Linked DNA regions of Homo sapiens: all the other regions are linked to region 1. The links come from fine-mapping of genetic effects on gene expression. A gene starts in region 1. Each other region holds a variant in brackets. All regions are shown on one strand. Distances are between the middles of the regions. Region 1 holds the start of JHY (junctional cadherin complex regulator). Region 2 overlaps CRTAM (cytotoxic and regulatory T cell molecule). Region 3 overlaps JHY (junctional cadherin complex regulator).

Region 1 (2,853 bases):
TAATTGTTGCTTTTTTAGGATGTGCCAAGAAAGCAGCAAATCTATCAAATACTAACACATTTTAAGTAAAAGAGATTGTTTAACACCGGTTTTACTGGAGGAGCTAAGGTCACTGAATTTGAGATCCTGAAGAGCAAGCTTAAGCGTTATAGTGCAACTTAGAATTACTCTTAAAATAATTCAGTCCCTTGAACTTCTCTTCTTAAATGAAATAGGCTAAGCTTTCTTGGAATGAATAAAAAATAAAACAGTAACCACAGAAGATAATTTTGCTGATGTTAGCAGATTCCTGAAGTTTGCTAAAGTATGCAAAGAGCAAAGCCAAACGCCACAAAAGCTGGGTTTTCTGTGGAGGCCTGATCTTACCAAAACATGGGGTGGAAGAAGGAACAGCTGACAGCTTGAATAAGTTAGAAAGTGGGCGTTTAAATTTCATGAATGTGGCTCCCTCCTCCCGTCCAGTGAAAAAAAAAAAAGGTTGTGCCGCTGAAATTTCTGACCAAGAGAGGTGACTAGTCTCCTGAATAAACAAGACAGCGATAGATCCGATGGCACCTAGGGACTAAGAAGCGGCCAGCTCCCCAGGGATCCCTGCAGTGGGTCTAGTCCACTAGCATGGGACAATCGAACTTTCTCCTGGAGGGGAAAAGGAACCCTGCTTGGGCTCACCAAGATGAATCGTAAAGAAAAAGGAACGAACCCTGGTTTGAAACAGGCCGGAAGCTGCCCAGGGGAGGCGTTCGGTTTTCTACCTTTGCTTGTTCCTGAGGAACAAGGCCTGTCACAAGGGGCGTTTGGAGGTCCAGGAAGTGACAAGTCGGCGGGCCTGGTGCCCGGGACCGGTCCTAATTGACCGGGAACAGGGCTGCTCTGGGTGCCCGGGCGCCGAAGCCTCGCATGGCGGCCCCCCAGCCCCTTGTCGCGGCCTCGCCCCCTTGTCGCTCCCCACTCCGTCCCGAAGGCTCCCGCGCCGGCTCCTCCCCAGCTTGCTTGGGTGGTTTCCTGCCGTCCCCATCCCCAGTAAGCCCTTCCCGTTTCCCTCCCCGGGCGCGCCGCCCACCCCAGATCCGGGAGGCCACCGCCCGTCACCTGCCCGGCGCTCCTCCGCGGCCGCGACCCGGACGGGCCCCGCATCCTCCCGCGCCGCCGCCGCCGCCGCCCGGGCCCCCGCCCGCCCCGGCGCTGCCCTGGAGACCGCAGACAACACAGACGCCGGCGCCACATGGGCGGGGCAGGACCCGACCTAGGATCCCGCGTCCCGAACCGCACCCCCGGCCCTGGCACGGAGGCTGCAAACGGCCGTAATAACGACATCGGGGCAGAGCCGGAGGAGCCCGAACGCCCCGGGAGAGGCTGCCTCGCCGCCCGGACTTCCCAGCGCCGGAGGGCAGAGGCCACCCGGGGGAGGAGATCTTTGCCACAAATAAAACTACTAAAATACGCGAGGAACTGCTACAAATCAAGAAGAAAAGGAACCCAATTAAATAATGGGTAAATGGAAAGGTATTTCACAAACACACGAGAAATCTAAATGGCCAATAAATATCTGTTTATTGAAATGATGCTTTAATTCATTAATAATCAGAAGAAGGCCAATTAAAACCACAGCGGATAATACCACACTCACCATAAGTTGAGTCGAAAAGTCCAAAGTTGAAACGTCTGGCAGCGTCAGGTGCTAGGGAGGACGTAGTGCAAAGAACCGTCACCTTCTGCGGGCGGACGTGAGAACCGATGCAACCAACCATTTTGGAAAATGGTTTGACATTAGCCAGGATATGTATGCCTTGGGATCCAGCAATTTCACTTTTAGGTATTTACCCTAAGAAGTGCGTGCTCCTGTGCATGCAAACTGGAAATAACTGAACTATCCATCAAAAGAATGGTTAATTAGATTATGCTATTGCCTATACTGGCATACTACATAGCACTGTAAATGAATGAAATACAACTATGTGTAACAATATGGAGGCATACTAAAAACACAATTTTGAACAACAACAAAAACCCAGAAAAAGTACATACTGTATGATTTTTGTATATAAAAAACAGGCTAAATTACACTCTACAGTGATTGTGGCTCCATACTTAGTGGAGGAAACTATGAAAAAAAGCAAAAAAGCAATTTTATGGGAAACACTACCCACTTAGTGATTCCCATCAAGTTAGGATTGTGGTCGGTTCTGGCAGGTAGGGAGAAGAATGTTTTTGAGACTGTATTTCCTGACCTTAATGATGGTTATATAGATGTTCATCTTGTAAAAATTCATTAAGCTGTACATTTATGTATGGGTAGAATATTTCACTATCAAAAAAGGTTTCAAAAAAGAATAAAGAAAGGAAGCATTAGGAATTATCTTCACATTAAAACAACAAGTAGATTTGAATAACTACCTTCAAAGATTGGTTTGAGGCCAGGTGCAGTGGCTCACCCTGTAATCCCAGCATTTTGGGAAACCGAGCTGGAGGATTGCTTGAGCCCAAGAGTTCAAGACCAGCCTGGGGAAAATGGCAAAACCTTGTCTCTACGAAAATTTTTAACAATTAGTTGAGCGTAGTGGCGCGTGCCTATAGTCCGAGCTACTTGGAAGGCTGAGGTGGGAGGATCACCTGAGCCCAGGAGGTTGAGGCTGAAGTCAGCCAATATTGTGCCACTGCACTCCAGCCTGGGTGAGAGTGAGACCTTGTCAAAAAAAAAAAAAAAAAAAAAAGAGAATTCTTCGGCCAGGCACAGTGGCTCATGCCTGTAATCCCAGCACTTTCGGAGGCCTAGGCGAGTGGATCACCTGAGGTCAGGAGTTCAAGACCAGCCTGGCCAACATGGCAAAACCCCGTCTCTACTAAAAATACAAA
Region 2 (2,500 bases), 36 kb after region 1:
GTGAGGGTTCAAGCTTTCTGAGAACATTCTGGCTCTTGATTGTCTTATCTGTCAATAGACCCCTAGGCTTTGTACCATCTGAACCTGTTGCACCGAGGAGCTGTTTATAATCATCTCTGTGTCCCTAACCTGGGTGGCATATGATGCAATGGTAACACACACGCACACGAGCCAAATTGACTGGGTTGGAATCCTGGCTCCTCCACTACTAACAGCACGAACTTAGGCAATTTAAGTGTGTGAATTTCCTTACCATAAAAACAGGAAAAACAATAGTATTCATCTCATAGAGTCATTGAGGCAATTAAAAAATATATGTAAAGAACCTAGTGTAGTACTTAGTCCATAGTAAGCATGACATTCTTCTTTTACTTGGTATATAGTGCTTAATAATTATTTGAAAAGCTGAACTGACTCTTGCTTTACAAAGAAAAGTGGAAAGAGTCAGTGTCAAAAGACAAAGCCTTGTAGCTCTGCAGCTCTTCACTAGGGATCTCCTTCCCCAGTGTTACAGGACTATTTATTATTAAACATTCTAAGGTCCTAGTAGACATTAAGGAAGAAGCAGTTAGGTCCTAGTAGACATTAAGGAAGAAGCAGTTCCAGTCGCAGTAAATCTAAATTGGAACAGTTCAGAAGGATTAAAGGTTTTGAGGAGCAAATGGTGATAATGAGTTCTTTTCATTTTGGACCTTAGATTCCAACCAAAGGTGTAGTTAATCATACCACTCAGTTCATGGTACACAATCATTATTTGATGAAAAGACAGAGAGAGACAGACAGACAGACAGACAGAGGTGTTAGAACTCTGTGAAATAATAAAATTTATGGCTATGTGCAGTGGCTCACTCCTGTATTCCAGTACTTTGGGAGGCCGAAGTGAGCAGATCACCTGAGGTCAGGAGTTCGAGACCAGCCTGACCAACATGGTCTCGAACAAAATTAGCCTGGCGTGGTGGTGGGCACCTGTAATCCCAGCTACTCAGGAGGCTGGGGCAGGAGAATCATTGAACCCGGGAGGAGGAGGTTGCAGTGAGCTGAGTTCATGCTGTTGCACTCCAGCCTGGGCAATAGAGCAAGACTCCATCTCAAAAATAAATTAAATTAAATAATAATATGTTTTCCCACTTCTCTCTTCTCTTCATCACATAAATTGTTTGCTATTGAAATGCTAACTTATTTGCATATGTGTTTCTCAATGTCATCCCCAAGTCACATCTACTTGCTTTTAGATCCTGCATACTTGGCGTGCCCTACATTGCTGTGAATGGAGTGGGTACCCGGTATCTCCACTTGGACACTAGTTTCCATCTCATTTATTTACACAAGGAATTCCCTTCTGTGTTGCTCCATCTCTCAAAAGATGATTTGGTACAAAAATAATTCTACCATCATTGTTTTTTTTCTCTTTA[G/A]CTGTATCATTCTCTGGCTGGATGTGGTGGCTCACACCTGTAATCCTAGCACCTTGGGAGGCCAAGGTGGGAGGATCACTTGAGGCCAGGAGTTTGAGACCAGCCTGGGAAACATAATAAGACTTTGTCTTTACAAAAAATTAAGAAAAAAAACTGTCATTCTCATCAGCACACAAATATATACTATTCATCCCATATTAAAATGCATAAACAAAATGATGTCAGATTTCCTTCCAGCTACTATCCTATACTACCCTATTCTACCCTATGTCCCTCCTTTTTATTTATTTATTTTTTTGAGACAGATTCTCATTCTGTCACCCAGGCTGCAGTGCAGTGGCATGATCTCAGCTCACTGCAACCTCCACCTCCCAGTTGCAAGCAATTCTCCTACCTCAGCCTCCCGAGTACCTGAGATTACAGGCACCCACCAGCACATCTGACTAATTTTTGTATTTTTAGTACAGAGACGGAGTTTTACCATGTTGTCCTGGTCTTGAACTCCTGACCTAAAGTGATCCACCCACCTCTGCCTCCCAAAGTGCTGGGATTACAGGCATGAGCCACCGTGCCCTGCCTTCCCTCTCTTTCACTGACACATTTTTCTAAAGAACTATCTATATTTGTTTATCCCACTCTTTGTTTTCTGACCAGGTTTTCAACTCCACTACCTCGTTGAAATCTCTCTTTGCCAAGGTTGCCAAAGACCTTCACATTGCTCAAACCAATGCTCCATTCTCAGACCATATCTTATTCAACCTATGGTGTTCCTTCGCCATATATGATCACTCTCTGCCCCTTAAATCAGTGTCTTTACCTGGTTCCCTAGATGTCAGTCTCTTTTTGACTCCCTTCCTAACTCACTGGCAGCTGCTGCTCCTCAGCTCTATTTCCGGGTTCTTCTCATCAATCTGCCCTTCACACAACGGAGGTCAGATCCTGGATAGACTCTCTATACTCACTCCATAGGTCATCTCATCTGGCCTCATCACCTTTCTGATGATCAGTTAGAAGTCTGAAAGCCTAACAAGTACAACACAAACTCTTGATTCTCTTCCCCCAAATGTGTTATTTTAGATTTCACCAAC
Region 3 (2,853 bases), 57 kb before region 1:
ATATACAGTATAATGATGGTAATAGACTTTAACATGTTTATAGGAAAAGATTTATGAGTCCATAATGATACTAGAGAGAGAGGGAGAGAGAGAGAGAGAGATAAAGAAGGAAGGAAGGAAGGAAGGAAGGAGAAAAAGGAAGAGGAAAAGGTCTTATTTCAACAGCCATGTAATAAATGTATAGGTATTGATAGAATTACAAAATCACCATTTTGCAACCCCAGTGTAATGGATGATTTAGGTAAGCACTGTCAGTGGATGCTAAAACCACTGTACAAAAAGCTGTTGAAAACTAGGATAATTACACTGTCTCGAATATTAATAATTACTTATAAAGGGAAAATGTTCCTTTACAATGGGGAGATCTGGTAGTCGCTACCTTAATCAAAAGGTTTAACTTAGCATCACCAATAATATGATAGCCTGATAGTATGTATCCCCTGGTATAATGTAATAAAAAGTACACCAAATCACCCAAGTAGTATTCTTGCCTGAAATGGTCAACCTAAATATAACTATCCAAAAACAATAAATTTTTTCTAAAAAGGCAATGTTATAGAAAACAATGAAAAGTGAGCATTGGATAATTTGTTCTAGATTTTTTTTTCTTTTTTTGAGACAGAACCTCACTCTGTTGCCCAGGCTGGAGTGCAGTGGCAGGATCTCAGCTCACTGCAACCTCTGCCTCCCAGGCTGAAGAGATTCTCCTGCCTCAGCCTCCCGAGTAGCTGGGACTACAGGAGCCTGCCACCACACCCAGCAAATTTTTGTATTTTTAGTAGAGTGGGAGTTTCACCATGTTGGCCAGGCTGGTCTCGAACTCCTGACCTCAAGTGATCCACCGCCTTGGCCTCCCAAAGTGCTGGGATTACAGGTGTGAGCCACCATGCCCAGTCTGTTCTAGATTTTTTTTTTTTTAATTAAAGGGACAAAAAGTAAATGAAATGTATGAACACTGAATACTGGATCAGGAATTTAAAAAAAAAAAAGCTGTAAAAGGCTTTTTGGAGACAAGTAATACAATTTAAAAATGTACTGATACTACATGATATTGTGTACAATAACGTTAATATTCTTAGCTGTGATAATGGTGTGATTGTTGTATAAGACAATGTCCTTATTCTTAGGGGCTGAATGTTGAAATATTTAGAGATAAAATATTGTGATTCTGAACTTGCTTTCAAATGATTCAGTAAATAGATAGAAAATGTTGCAAAATTTTAGCACTGATGAATCTAGATGAAGGACTACAGGTGTTTATTGTAGATATTTTCCCCCAAGTTTTTACTAGGTGTGAACAATTTCAAAATGAAAAGGTGGTAGAAAAAAC[G/A]TGGCAGAATAAGCATGCAATTTAACTCTCAAATGCAAATCAAAATTATATATAAAGAGATTTTTAAAAGACATCAACCCACGAAGATAAAGAGAACAAAATGGGGGGAAAAGAGCAAATATTTCGGAAGCAGAGAACAGATGGTTGAATGGTAACTATCTTAGCAGACTCAAAAAAGTGGAATCTAAGTTAGCAGCAGGGAAAGCAGAGAAGCCACAGTTTACACCATAGAATCCTGTAAGGCTCATGAGCTGTAAGTGGGAGTGGCGGTGGTGAAAGTCTATGTGAGAGTTACTTAAAAAAGATTTGGTTGAAAGTCTGTTTAAGAAGCAGTCAGGGTTGGGTGCGGTGGCTCACGCCTGTAATCCCAGCACTTTGGGAGGCCGAGGTGGGTGGATCACGGGGTCAGGAGATCGAGACCATCCTGGCCAACATGGTGAAACCCTGTCTCTACCAAAAATCCAAAAACTAGCCAGGCGTGGTGATGGGCGTCTGTAGTCCCAGCTGCTCAGGAGGCTGAGGCAGGAGAATCGCTTGAACCCGGTAGGCAGAGGTTGCAGTGAGCTGAGATCGTGCCACTGCACTCCAGCCTGGCAACAGAGTGAGACTCCGTCTCCGGAAAAAAAAAAAAAAAAAGAAGAAGCAGGCGGATCTCCAGATCATCTTCTCCATTTTGTGCACCTAGGCAACTGTCCCTTCCCTCTCTCCGCAGCTCGCTGGAGGTTTTCATTCTGAAGAAGCCAACAAGTCTTCTGCCTGTGAAGCACCAAGCACAGATAATAAATCTGACCACCAAGAGAAAAGACCTAAAACCTACAGGAAGGGCTTCCTATCACATGGCACCCAAAGATCATTCTATAGGCACTCAAAGTCAACAAGCACTGTCACTCAGAGCTTCCAATAAGCTTTCTAGTCCCTCATACTTGATCATGAGAAGATGATCAAGAATTGCTAGACATCTGACACAAGCCCTAAGGTGGAAGGCAGCAAAATAGGAGAAGAGAAACAAACATCACTGACAAAGACCTAGAGGAAAGAGAAGCAAAGCAGGGAATTAAAAACACTTAAAAATTCAGTCACAAGGGCCCTTACACCCTATTTTGCCTTGTTGAAAATCTAAGAAGACGTTGAGAAAAAAGGATGTTGTATCCATGAACAAAAACATGAGGCTATAAAACGAGGAGCATTCAGAAACCAATAACAGAAACAACAACAAAAAAATCCTGTCGGAAATTAACAAACATGATAGCAGTAGAAAGGCTGGAAGCTAGGACTGAGAAACCCTCCCAGACAGTAGAACAAAATTAGAAAGAAATGGAGAAAGAAAGAGAAAACAAAATCATAATAACGGTCCTGGAAAAACGCATCTGAATCACAGGAGTTTCTAGAAAGAGCAAACAGAAAATGGTTGAAAGGAACTACCCATAAAGATGACTCAAGAAATTTTCCCAGAACTGAAGGTCATATGTTTTCAGGTTTAAAGGCCCCAGCTCAATCTATGAAAACAGACCTATACAAAGGCG

The links. PIP is the estimated chance that this variant, and not a neighbour inherited with it, causes the effect.
Region 2: its variant is fine-mapped to the expression of JHY in monocytes (BLUEPRINT, PIP 0.91).
Region 3: its variant is fine-mapped to the expression of JHY in lung (GTEx, PIP 0.97).

The regions. Positions count from the first base shown.
Region 1 is chr11:122,881,209-122,884,061 of GRCh38, reverse strand. It overlaps JHY (junctional cadherin complex regulator), which reads right to left and starts at 1,303. Exons shown (of 9, transcript NM_024806.4): 1 at 1,090-1,303. RefSeq lists a silencer at 825-1,184.
Region 2 is chr11:122,844,917-122,847,416 of GRCh38, reverse strand. All of the region lies in intron 1 of CRTAM (cytotoxic and regulatory T cell molecule), which reads right to left. Among named protein-coding and RNA genes, the nearest start is that of CRTAM, 7.7 kb to the right of the region's middle. The variant G/A (reference allele first, on the strand shown) is at 1,413.
Region 3 is chr11:122,938,100-122,940,952 of GRCh38, reverse strand. All of the region lies in intron 5 of JHY (junctional cadherin complex regulator), which reads right to left. Among named protein-coding and RNA genes, the nearest start is that of BSX, 42 kb to the left of the region's middle. The variant G/A (reference allele first, on the strand shown) is at 1,331.